Linked DNA regions of Homo sapiens: region 2 is linked to region 1. The links come from fine-mapping of genetic effects on gene expression. Tissue or cell type: tibial nerve. Region 1 holds a variant in brackets; the other region holds the start of a gene. All regions are shown on one strand. Distances are from middle to middle.

What was found. PIP is the estimated chance that this variant, and not a neighbour inherited with it, causes the effect.
Region 2: it holds the start of COL21A1, and the variant in region 1 is the best candidate, but not a certain one, in a credible set for the expression of COL21A1 in tibial nerve (GTEx, PIP 0.65).

What each region holds. Positions count from the first base shown.
Region 1 is chr6:56,052,607-56,058,206 of GRCh38, forward strand. It overlaps COL21A1 (collagen type XXI alpha 1 chain), which reads right to left. Exons shown (of 30, transcript NM_030820.4): 30 at 3,984-5,238. The coding sequence ends at 5,051. Among named protein-coding and RNA genes, the nearest start is that of BMP5, 180 kb to the left of the region's middle. The variant G/A (reference allele first, on the strand shown) is at 3,176.
Region 2 is chr6:56,244,481-56,250,080 of GRCh38, forward strand. It overlaps COL21A1 (collagen type XXI alpha 1 chain), which reads right to left and starts at 3,100. Exons shown (of 30, transcript NM_030820.4): 1 at 2,907-3,100. RefSeq lists enhancers at 1,999-2,500, 2,501-3,000.

The sequences.
Region 1 (5,600 bases):
GCTAGGTCTAGCAGTATTTTTGGTTTTAGGTCTTTGAGAAATCATCATACTGTCTTCCACACTGAACTAATTTACATTCTTACCAACGGTGTATAAGCATTCGTTTTTCTTCACAACCTCACCAGCGAAATCATGTTCTTTGCAGGGATGGATGGAGCTGGAGGCCATTAAACTTAGCAAACTAACCCAGGAACAGAAAACCAAATACTGTATGTTCTCACTTATAAGCGGGAGCCTAATAATGAGAACACATAGACACATGGAGGGGAACGATACACACTGGGGCCTACTGGAAGGTGGAGGGTGGAGGTTGGGAGGAGGGAGAAGATCAGGAAAAATAACTAATGGGTACTAGACTTAATACCTGGGTGATGAAATAATCTGTATGACAAACCCCCATGACACAAGTTTACCTATGTAGCAAACCTGTACAGGCACCCCTGAACTTAAAGTAAGCTAAAACAGATACTAATATGAGAATTTTGGAATCTGTAAAATTTCTCTGTGAAAACCTACTTTTGAGAAGGCATAACCCAGGAATAACACAGTGGGTTATCATTTATGTTCCTTATTTCAAATGTGTTATTAGGGGCAAAATAAAACTTTGGTTAAGATATTCCAAAGATAAATCTTTGCAGCTAAATTTAAACTATGAGTTGATTTCTGGTCTTTCGCCTTAAAACTACAGAAGTGAATCTGAATCTGAGGCATCCCTCTGTGTTCCCCATTCTGTTTCCCAGTCCTCAAAGACGAGGCTCTCAGTGCTTTAGGCACAGAGGTGCTAACCTTTTGTGTTATTTCATACAACCTATTGTGCCTGGATTATGGTGACATGTCCTTTGACTATTAATTGCAATCTGTAGATAATGATAAGAGCAAGTTTCTGCCTCCCCAAGGTGAGGCACAGCCAATAGGCCAGATCTATAATTTAGGACTACCAGGAGTGAGCTTTGAACCTTGCCTTTGGCGATAACGTTATCAATCAGAAGAATTAACCAAACCTCCTAGCTGAGGACTTTAACAAATGGAACTATGCAAAGGTAAAGCAGATAGGCAACACATCAAAATATAAACGGCTTAATTGTGATTTAGGTATTCAACTTATGAGAACAATTTTTTTCTTCTTTGGAATAATTAAGTTGTAAGAAAATAAATCTAGCCATACTTTTAAAAATGAGAAAATGTTCAGGCTAAAGATATATAGTTATAACTTATAAGACTTACAAGATTAATATAATGAAGAAGAGATTATCATAGTGTGTGTGTGTGTGTGTGTGTGTGTGTGTGTGTGTGTGTGTGTGTGTGTGTGTGGCTGCCCTCTACTGGGGACCGAAGGACGAGTTCTCAATTGAGTTCTCCCAGCTCAATTTCAGTTGAAAATCTCTTCATGACAAAAATTAAATCAAGCACCTAGCAAAGTTCTAAGCACCAGAGACAAAGTATAGTACCACAAGACTATAAATCCTAAAGGTTTTTTTTTTTTTCTAAATTGACCCTACTTTACATTTTAGAGGAAAATCGTTGAAATTATGCAAAGACAGCCTTTACTGAGAATGATTTTTACCCTTAAGACTGAGAGTTTCATTCTGAATTGACATTCAGGATGAATGCCAATGAGTCAGATCAGCTTTATTCAGTATCAGTTACACACATATAAAATGATTTTAGTACTTTTAAAATTTTTTCACTCTCAAGATTTGGTAACCTTGGCTGGGCGTGGCAGCTTACGCCTATAATCCCAACACTTTGGGAGGCTGGGGCAGGCAGATCACTTGAGGCCAGGAGTTTGAGACCAACACTTGAGGCCAACATGGTGAAACCCTGTCTCTACTAAAAATACAAAAATCAGCTGGGCATGGTGTTGGGTGTCTGTAATCTCAGCTACTCGGGAGCCTGAGGCAGGAGAATCACTTAAACCTGGGAAGCGGAGGTTGCAGTGAGCCGAGATTGTGCCACTGCACTCCAGCCTGGGTGACAGAGCAAGATTCTATCTCAAAGAAAAAAAAAAAAAAAAGGCTGGGCATGATGGCTCACATCTGTAATCCCAGCACTTTGGCAGGCCGAGGCGGGCAGATCACCTGAGGTCAGGAGTTCAAGACCAGCCTAACCAACAGGGAGAAACCCGTCTCTACTAAAAAAACAAAATCAGCCAGGCATGTTGGCACATCCCTGTAATCCCAGCTACTCCAGAGGCTGAGGCAGGAAAGTCACTTGAACCTGGGAAGCAGAGGTTGCAGTGAGCCGAGACCATGCTATTGCACTCCAGCCTGGGCAACAAGAGCGAAACTGTCTCAAAAAAAAGAAAAAAAAAAAGATTTGGTAACCCCATATTTTCTGTCTAGTTCTAGTAAATTGTATGACTTTATTTCACTGATGAATTTCTTTTGTTTTCTCTCATTTAATCTTTTTAATACTATGAAGTAAGTATTATTAATATCCTCAACTTATCATATGAAAGAATTTAAGTACAAAGATGTAAATAAATTTTCTGAAGCCTCGCAGCTAGAAACAAAACGTAGGAATTTTGATGCAGGAAATCTCAGGACAGAAGCCATGCTCTCAGCAACCACACTAAAAGGCCTTTCACGTAACATGGTGCTGAGCACGTAACATAGTTATGTTGCAAAAATGTACTTGCAGAGCAAGATTATTCACCTATTCATTCTTGAAAATCAGCGTGTTATGAGTTAGTCTTAAATTTCTCCAAGGCAAAACTATGACACAATGTATGCCATGCTAAATTATGGAAATATTTCATCCTGAGATGCCAAATTTTAAAGCAGAAATACTGAAAGTAAATATAGTTTACATTCCATAGATTTTGTTGTTCTTGGAATTCTTCATGCTTTTTCTAACCCTCCACCCTTTGCTCATTTTCATTATCTTTACATGACTTAGTTATGCCAATACCTCCTAGCCTACTATAATCTGCACTACTCTGCTTGGAATGCCATAACAAAATATCATTGACTTGCTGGCTTAAGCAACAGAAATTTTTGTTCATACAGTTCTGAAGGCTGGAAGTTCGAAATTAGGGTGCCAGTATAGTCGGGTTCTGGTGAGGTCCCTTTTCCAGGTTGCAGAGAGTCACCTTTCACAATGTACTCACATAGTCTTCCCTGGATGTGAGAGCTAGAAGGCCATGAGGTAGATGAAGCAGATGAAGGGAGGGAGG[G/A]TAGTAGGGGAGAGCAACCTCTTCCTCTTCTTATAAAGCCACCAATTCTATGGGATTAGGACTCCACCCTTATGACCTCATTTATCTTGGTTACCTCCTGAAAGCCCTATATTCAAATATAGTCACATTGGGGGTAAGGGCTTCCATATATGAATCGGGGGCATACAATGCAGTCCATAACATCATCTTTTACATTTCAATTGCATTTTCTCCATTCTTAGAATTAATATATTGGAATCACCTGTACACTTACCTGTGTCTCGTTATACATGTGTTCCCTCAGGCCAAATTCTAACTATATTGCCATTGTATCCCAGGCACCGAACCTATCCATGTGGTGAGTACTGTTGGATGAATAAATCAATGATACCAAATGGCTTTATTCTGATTCTTTACCAGCTCTTAGAAGCAAATGTCATAATTAAAGCAGGGGTGATAGGTTTGTTGGCTTAAGCAGATACCTGGGCCTTTACTGGAGATAAAACACCAGAACAAGCCTTATGCTCATTCAGCCACTAAACATCATAAATTTTAGTCCCCTCCAAAGTCCTCATCAAAATAATAGAATTTGCACGACAATAAAGTTAAACACTGGGCAACAGCCATGACTGTGCTAGGAAGCAAGTGTTTCAACTGTTCAGGTGTGTAGCACACCAATTCAATTTGTAATTTCTTATTTCAGGTGAACACATTTTTTAAGAATAGGCTGAATGATTTCATAAATTATATCCATTGAATAAATGACCATGCAATATACATACCATACTCAACAATCAGTTAAAATTAGGTATAAAAAAAGACATTGTAATCAGGCCTGTACAAAACTTTATTATACTCTGAATAACAAGCATGTAACAAAATTTTGAGCATGACAAGGATGAAATATTTCAAATTCTGTTTCTTACAAAAGCATTAAGCACAATACACAAAGACTGTTCATAATATTTTACAGTCAGCTAAAAATAACAAGACATTCTAGGATTTCAGGAGTTTTCCTTTTCTTTCAACTAGAGCATTAGCTTTATTTCCATTAGCTTTGCTACAATGAAAATTAACATATATGGACATACACATATAAGTGAAATGGAAAATGAAGGCATACAACAAACATTCCGATTAATCAACAAGTATAAAATAGTCTTTTAGTACTTCCAAACTTACATTTTCTTTGAATGTACAATGAAACTTTTTGTCTAAAATGTTTTTAATGTTAATTTTGACCATTCCCAAAGTAATTAATACTCTTTCTTAGCACCACCATTAATCTAATTTTAGAGTTTGAAATGAATTAAGAAACACTCTAATCTTATTCAGAGGTGCTATTCACAACACCGAACAACAGGCAATCCACTGCCCCTTATCAAGGCTGAGACACTGTAGTAAATGAGTAGTTCACCAATACTGTCTATCCCAGGTGAATATCAGCCCTGATCTTACTTCCAATGATGAGATACATGTTTTGGCTTATGTAGTAGCATGAGCTATGAGATAGGAAACATGAAAGTCACATGGACATGAAATTAAACTCAAATCTCTACTGCATGGAGGCTGAATGTGAAATATTTCACAGTGACTAAAACTGACTGGCTAACAGGCAATGGTGGATTTTTATATTCAACTTTGATTAACATAAATGGACTTTACAAGAAACCCTTGAGATTTAATTAATGCTGCTAATCCAAGGGCTCCAAATGACTGAGGAGCCTTTAAAATCAGTATATGTGATCTTTTATATTTTTTTCCATAAGAAAAAAAAAATAAAAACACCGAGGTACTTAAGTTTCTTTTCAAGGGATTACTGTTGGTTATCTTCCTGAGATGCAAAAGACCACAGAAAAAGCACCATGCCTAGGCTGCTGAATGAGGCATCAGACACTAATAGTTTGGTCCTTTTCTGAACGGATCTCTTCTGGCAATTACACTAAAACATAGTGATGGGTCGCAGATGCCTGGGGGGCCTGGTTGCCCTTGGATTCCAGGTTTTCCATGGTCTCCATCTTTGCCAGGGAGACCTGGGTCTCCTGGAGGACCTTCTTTGCTTATTCCAGGAGGGCCCTCTGGACCTAAGATGGGACATTGGCAAGACGTAAACAGAGGACTTTAGTTTTTTATAATGAAATAGCCAATTCTGCAAGAAACTTAAACTGAAAAAAAAAACCTTGAATATTTTATATATTTGCACTAATTATATAGTAGAGGCATTTTCTTGATAATTCTACATGTCTTCTGCTTTGAAAAGAACCATCCAAAAGTTAAAGTTATCAGTAATTTTTGAAAACTAGGCTAAGCATATTAACATAGTAACCATGCTACTGATTAAAACATTTAGCTAACATTATAATATTCCATTTTGTGTATTGTCCAATCTTATTTCTTCCTTTCAGCCTATCTTTTACCAATATTATTATAAATTAACAGGTGATAC
Region 2 (5,600 bases), 190 kb after region 1:
GTGAGTCAAATAGAAAACCCTATTTATAATAAATTGGAATTACATTTAGTTTAATAACATTAAATTCTAATTCTAATCATTTTAATAACATTAAATTATAATTTTTAAAGTATCCTAATGAAGATCTGATTTCTTGAATGGAGGACTTACTAAAGTGCTTAGATGCCGGAACTTGCTTTATGTTTAGTCTTATAGAAGTCATATATGATTGGTAATTAGCAGGTTACAACCTCTTGCATTTAAAGATGCCAGATGAGTCATAAAAGGCATTCTCAGTAATACACTATTCAACTTATCGCTAAAATAAAAGAGAATGGAAATTAATTTCAAAGTACAGAATCATTTGGCATCTTTTTTGGCATTAATACCATAAATATTTTCACTAGATCTACTTGGTCCTAAGAGGATAATAGAGATCAGTTCCAATCAAATAATGTGAAAGGAATTGATTGTATGCATGTGTGTGTGACTTGAAGCATTTTGAAATTATTGCAGCTAAGGAAGAAAAGGACTCATTACCTCACCTACTCTTTTTGCCAGTTTAGGCTTGTCCTTGCTCTGTGTCCTCATTTTGCTTCCTCTTATATTTTCTTGAACAAATCATGATGTAACTGGATAGGGTTTCCTTTATTCACTCTGTTAAGAACCTAAGAAACACCAGATAGTACTTCTAAACTAGCTTTCCTGGAGACTACACCATCTCACTTTTAGATGCTCTCTCATTTGGATTTTCTTTTACAAAGAAAAGTATTCTGAAGAACCAGATTTTACGGCTATTTAAATATGAATGTTAATACATTATAAAGGCTACCAGAAGGTGAAATCCTTCACCACAGTGACTTAAAAAAACCTAGGCTATTGATTTGAAGCTAATCTAAAACTTTTTCCAGAAAGTTCCATATAAAGTATGTAATCAAATTATAAGGATAATTTGAGGATGTCCATATAGTCACCTTCTAAGAGTGCAGTTGGTATTTAAATAAAAATCTAATCATGTATCAACATAGATCTTCTTTTAAGGTGGTTGAGGATTATGTTGTTTGATGGTGTGTATACATGAGTTTGTATTTTGAGCTAACAAATATTTAACTTACTATGCTAGGCACTTTAGAAGCATTATTTAACTCTGACAACAATGTGAATTATGAGGTAAGTGTACTAGTACGCCCCACATTTCACAGATAAGGAAAATGAGGCTCGGAGAAGCTATGCAACTATCCAAGAGCACAGAGAAGCAGAAGAGCAGGTCTTGAACCCAGGTCTGCCTCAGACCAAAGTTCCTGTTCCTAACCACTATCTAAATTTCCCCCAGATTCTCTAAATACAAGCTTAGTACCTAACCCTTAACAAGTTTATATACCTCAGTCACAAATTGGCACAGAAAAAAAGCAGTTTGGAAAATAAATGTTCTCTGTACAGGAAGTCTTGGTACAGTTAGCCCTGTGTTCATTGCAGCACGCATGTGCTGGGATTGGAGTCATGCCTATTCTAGATTTTCTTATCCAGTGTCAGATTTCTAATCCATTTAAGCCCATTTGCAAAGTCATTCTATTTTTGAACTAATGGCTTAGAAACAGCTGGAACTATTTTAGCCAAAATTTTGAAATCTCAGATATCTATAAAAAGAAAAAAAAAATGGTCCACTTCAATAATCCAGAGGCCTGCAACACTGAATTCCCTTTCACTAAAGAGAATTGGCATGAATCCCTTAAACCCTCAACTACTTTAGGAAAAGACAAAATACGCATATGAATGCTGTAACCTGCACTGATGACAGTGATGATCCAGGAACATTTCATCAGGGGTCAAAGATTCCTGTTATTACAGCTGGAAGACTCATGTATATTTCTTCCTTGGCTTCATTTCAACTTTTAGAAAAGGAAAAATTCCTATTCTCTCCTAAAGCAAGTATACAAATTCTACTGCTTAAAAATTATTCGATGATGCTTAAGTCTCCCCTTTATAAGATCTTTCAAAGTCCCCAGTATGCTTTTTTTTTTTCAATATGGGCAAAACTCTACTAATAAATAACTAAGGTTCTTCTGAAAAGTGGTCTGTTGCCTCCTCCCTTGGTGAAGGGAAATTTGCAGGTGTCTTCTCTGATTAAGTAAGGTCCAACCCAACAGTTTTCAAACTTGAGCAAGCACTAGCATTACCTGGAGGGCTCATTAAAACACAGGTTTCTGGGCACCAGCCTCAGGGTTTTAGGTTCAGTGGGTCTAGGGCGGAGCTAGAGCCCTAGATTTTGTTTGTATTTCTCAAAGTTACCAGGTGCTTGCTGCTGCGGGCCAGATGCCACACAGCGAATCACTGCTGTAGTTCGCTGCTTTCTATATTCGACTGCACTTTGGAATCACCTGACAAAAGTTTTAAATATGTTAATGCTCAAAGTCCCACCCCCAGAGATTCTGAGTAATTGGTCTGGGGTGCTGCTCAAGCATCGATTTTTTTAAAGGTCCCGGAGTGAGTCCATAATGCAGCAGCCGTAAAGAACCTCTGGCCCACTCAACACAGCCCCAGACCCACAGCTCTGCGCGCTCAGCGCCACGTGTGGACGCTGGAGACCCTTCCAAGAAGCTAAAAGCTGAGGGTGGGGTTGAGCTCAGGGGAGTAAATCAACGCACGTTATCGTACTCAGAAGCCAAACACTCCAAGGCAGGAATCTGCACCCAGAGAACCTCCCAAGATTCATTAACATGAAGTAACTTTGCAAGACAAATCCTGACATCTCAGCCTCCAGCTGGGCGCGGAATTCACCGAACAGTTCACCAACTGCTTTGGCGCAGGGAGAAGACTGCACCCCCAGGAAACCCAAAATGCCAAATTGCAGCCCCTGGAGAGCCAGCCCTGAGGCCCCCCGAGATGTCATTCTGGCAGCGAGAGGGGAGTAGGAGGTGTCTCCTTACCTGGCGCAGTGTCCAGGCTCGGGGTTGCCGTCGCAGCCAGCTGAGTGTTGCGCCAGGGGGACAGGTATGTTCCAGGCAGTGGCAAGCCCAACCCGAGCAAGACCTGCGCTGAAACGGATTGGCTGCCCTCCGCCCGGAGTCCGTTCTCCCTGCAGCGGCCAGTGCAGAGCTCAGAGGCTCAGAAACTCGCTCTCAGCCCCCTGGAGGCGGAGCCCGGGAGATAAGGTTCGCGCTCCCCACCCGCCCCCTTTCCTTGGCCGAAGACCAGAGGGTGGATTTTGGATCTGGATCTTGAAGGGCGAACTGCTAGTGTCGCCCTGGTGGAAACACTCAGTTCAAATCCTGCTAGCATCAGAAAATGCACGATTGAGGATTGAAAACGAGGGTGAAGGAGGACCAGGGAAGCGCGAGGAGAGAGGCAAAATAAGGGACTGCCAGGAAAGCAGGAAAGGCAACTCAGTTGAAAGGGCAAGCACTAAAGGAGGCAAAGACTTGGGCAACACCAGAGCATCGCCTGCACTGATCGAAGGAGGCCTGCCTCCCTTGCCCAAGAAGAACCCCCCTCTGGGGCGCCAAGGTACGTTGCAGCGGACTGATGTTCCTTGCTTTCAACCAAAAGTAACAGCTGCTCCAAAACCTGAGGGAAGTTCACTTTCAAATAGTCAAGTAGGCAGTGACCTTTAAGGGTTTAGCAATTACAAAGGAAGCCTCGGAATAAGGTGACAGCCTTATGACAAGATAAAGATGCTGTCTGCTCTGCCCCTTTGAGTGCATTCTTCACAGAGCAGCCAGAAAGTTATTTAACATTCATATGCTTTCCCTATTATCTGCAACTCTTCTTTTCTCACCCGTGTGCACCCCTCCTACCCCAACACACACAAGACCTGTTTGCCCTTTCTTATACACACCAGTGTGTTCTCATCTCACTTGGCATTTCTTCTGCCTCCAAAACTCTGTCCCAGACCTTATCATAGTTGCTTGCTTCTGTTCATCAAATTATCCACTCTTTGTGACACTTTGAGACACTTTGAGAGTGAGTCCTTCCTGTACATCCCATCCAAATGGAATGCCCAACCCCACTTTGGTTTCAACAGATCACTTATTGCTATCTGAAGGTTTTCATATCTTCATTGCTTGTGTGTGTTTCCTATCCAACTCAAGGTATGCTCTATGAGGGCAGGAAATTGGTCTTGTTCCCAGCTGTGTCCCCTGAGCCTAGAACAATACCTGGAATATACAAGGTGCTCAATAAATATTGGCTAAATGAATGTGTGAATTAATTTCTCCCTGTGGGAACAGGTTCACAAAGAAATGCCTTCTTCAATAACTAAATCTCACTTAATTCAGGTGTGATACAAACATCTTCAAATGATCATTTCCTGAATTTCCTTATTCATTCATGTTAGATTCTACTGTTACAAAAATATGATAGGAGAACATTGCTTTGGATTTGGTAACATCTTCTTAGATATGACACCAAAAGCACAAGCAATTCAAGAAAAAATAAGTTAGACTCCATCAAAATTTAAAATGTTGTGCTTCAAATCACACTATCTAGAAAGTAAACAGCCCACATACTAAGAAAATATTTGCATACCATCTATACAATTAGATTCTTGTGTCCAGATATACAAAAATCTTACAACTCAAGAGTAAAAAGACAGTTTTAAAATGCACAAAGTATTTAGACGTTTCTCCAAAGAAGATCTACTAATGGCCAATGAGAACATGAATGAATGCTAAACATAATTAGCCATTGGGGAAATGAAAATTAAAACCACAAGCAGATACACTTTATACCACTAGGATGGCTAAAATAAGAAAAACAATAAGTGTTAGGGAGGATATGGAGAAATTGGAACACTCATATATTCCTAGTGGGCTTGTAAAAATGATTAAGCCACTTTGGAAAACAGTTTGCCATTCTCTAAAATGTTCAATGTAGAGTTAACTTATAACCTGACAAATTCATTCTTCAGTAGATAGCCAAGAAAATCAAAAACATATATCCACATCAACACTTCTATATGAATATTCATAGGAATGTTACTCATAAAGCCAAAGGCAGTAACAACCCAAATGTCTATCAGCGGATGAATGGATAAGAAAAGTGTTATATCGCTACAATGGAATATTATTCTGACATAAAAAGGAATGAAACACTACATGCTAAATCATGGTTGAACCTGAGCATGTTAGCTAAAAGAAGCCAGTCACACACACAAAAAAACACTTATTGTATGATTCTGTCAATATAAAATGTTCAGAATAAGCAAATCCATAACTACTTGAAGTACGTAGTAAATCCATACCTATAATACATGAAGTGCTGGTAGAAGGAAGAAATGGGAGTGAGTGTTAATGGGAATGGGGTTTGCTTTGGGGTGATAAAAATGCTCTGGAGTTCGTGCTGATAGTGACGATTTTGAATATACTAAAAACTACTGAATTGTTGACTTTAGAATGGTCAATTTTACAGTATGTGAATTATATATCAGTTTTAAAACACTGATTTGTACCCTTTTAGTGGGTAAATTTTATGATGCATGAATTGTAGGTCAATAAAGATGTTATTAAAAATAAGAAATAAAATGCACTGGTTTTAACTGAACTGTAAAATATTCCTCTAAATTTTGTCATGGCTCTCTAGAGAACTATTCTTGTCCTAAGTGAATTCACAATTTTTTAAAACAT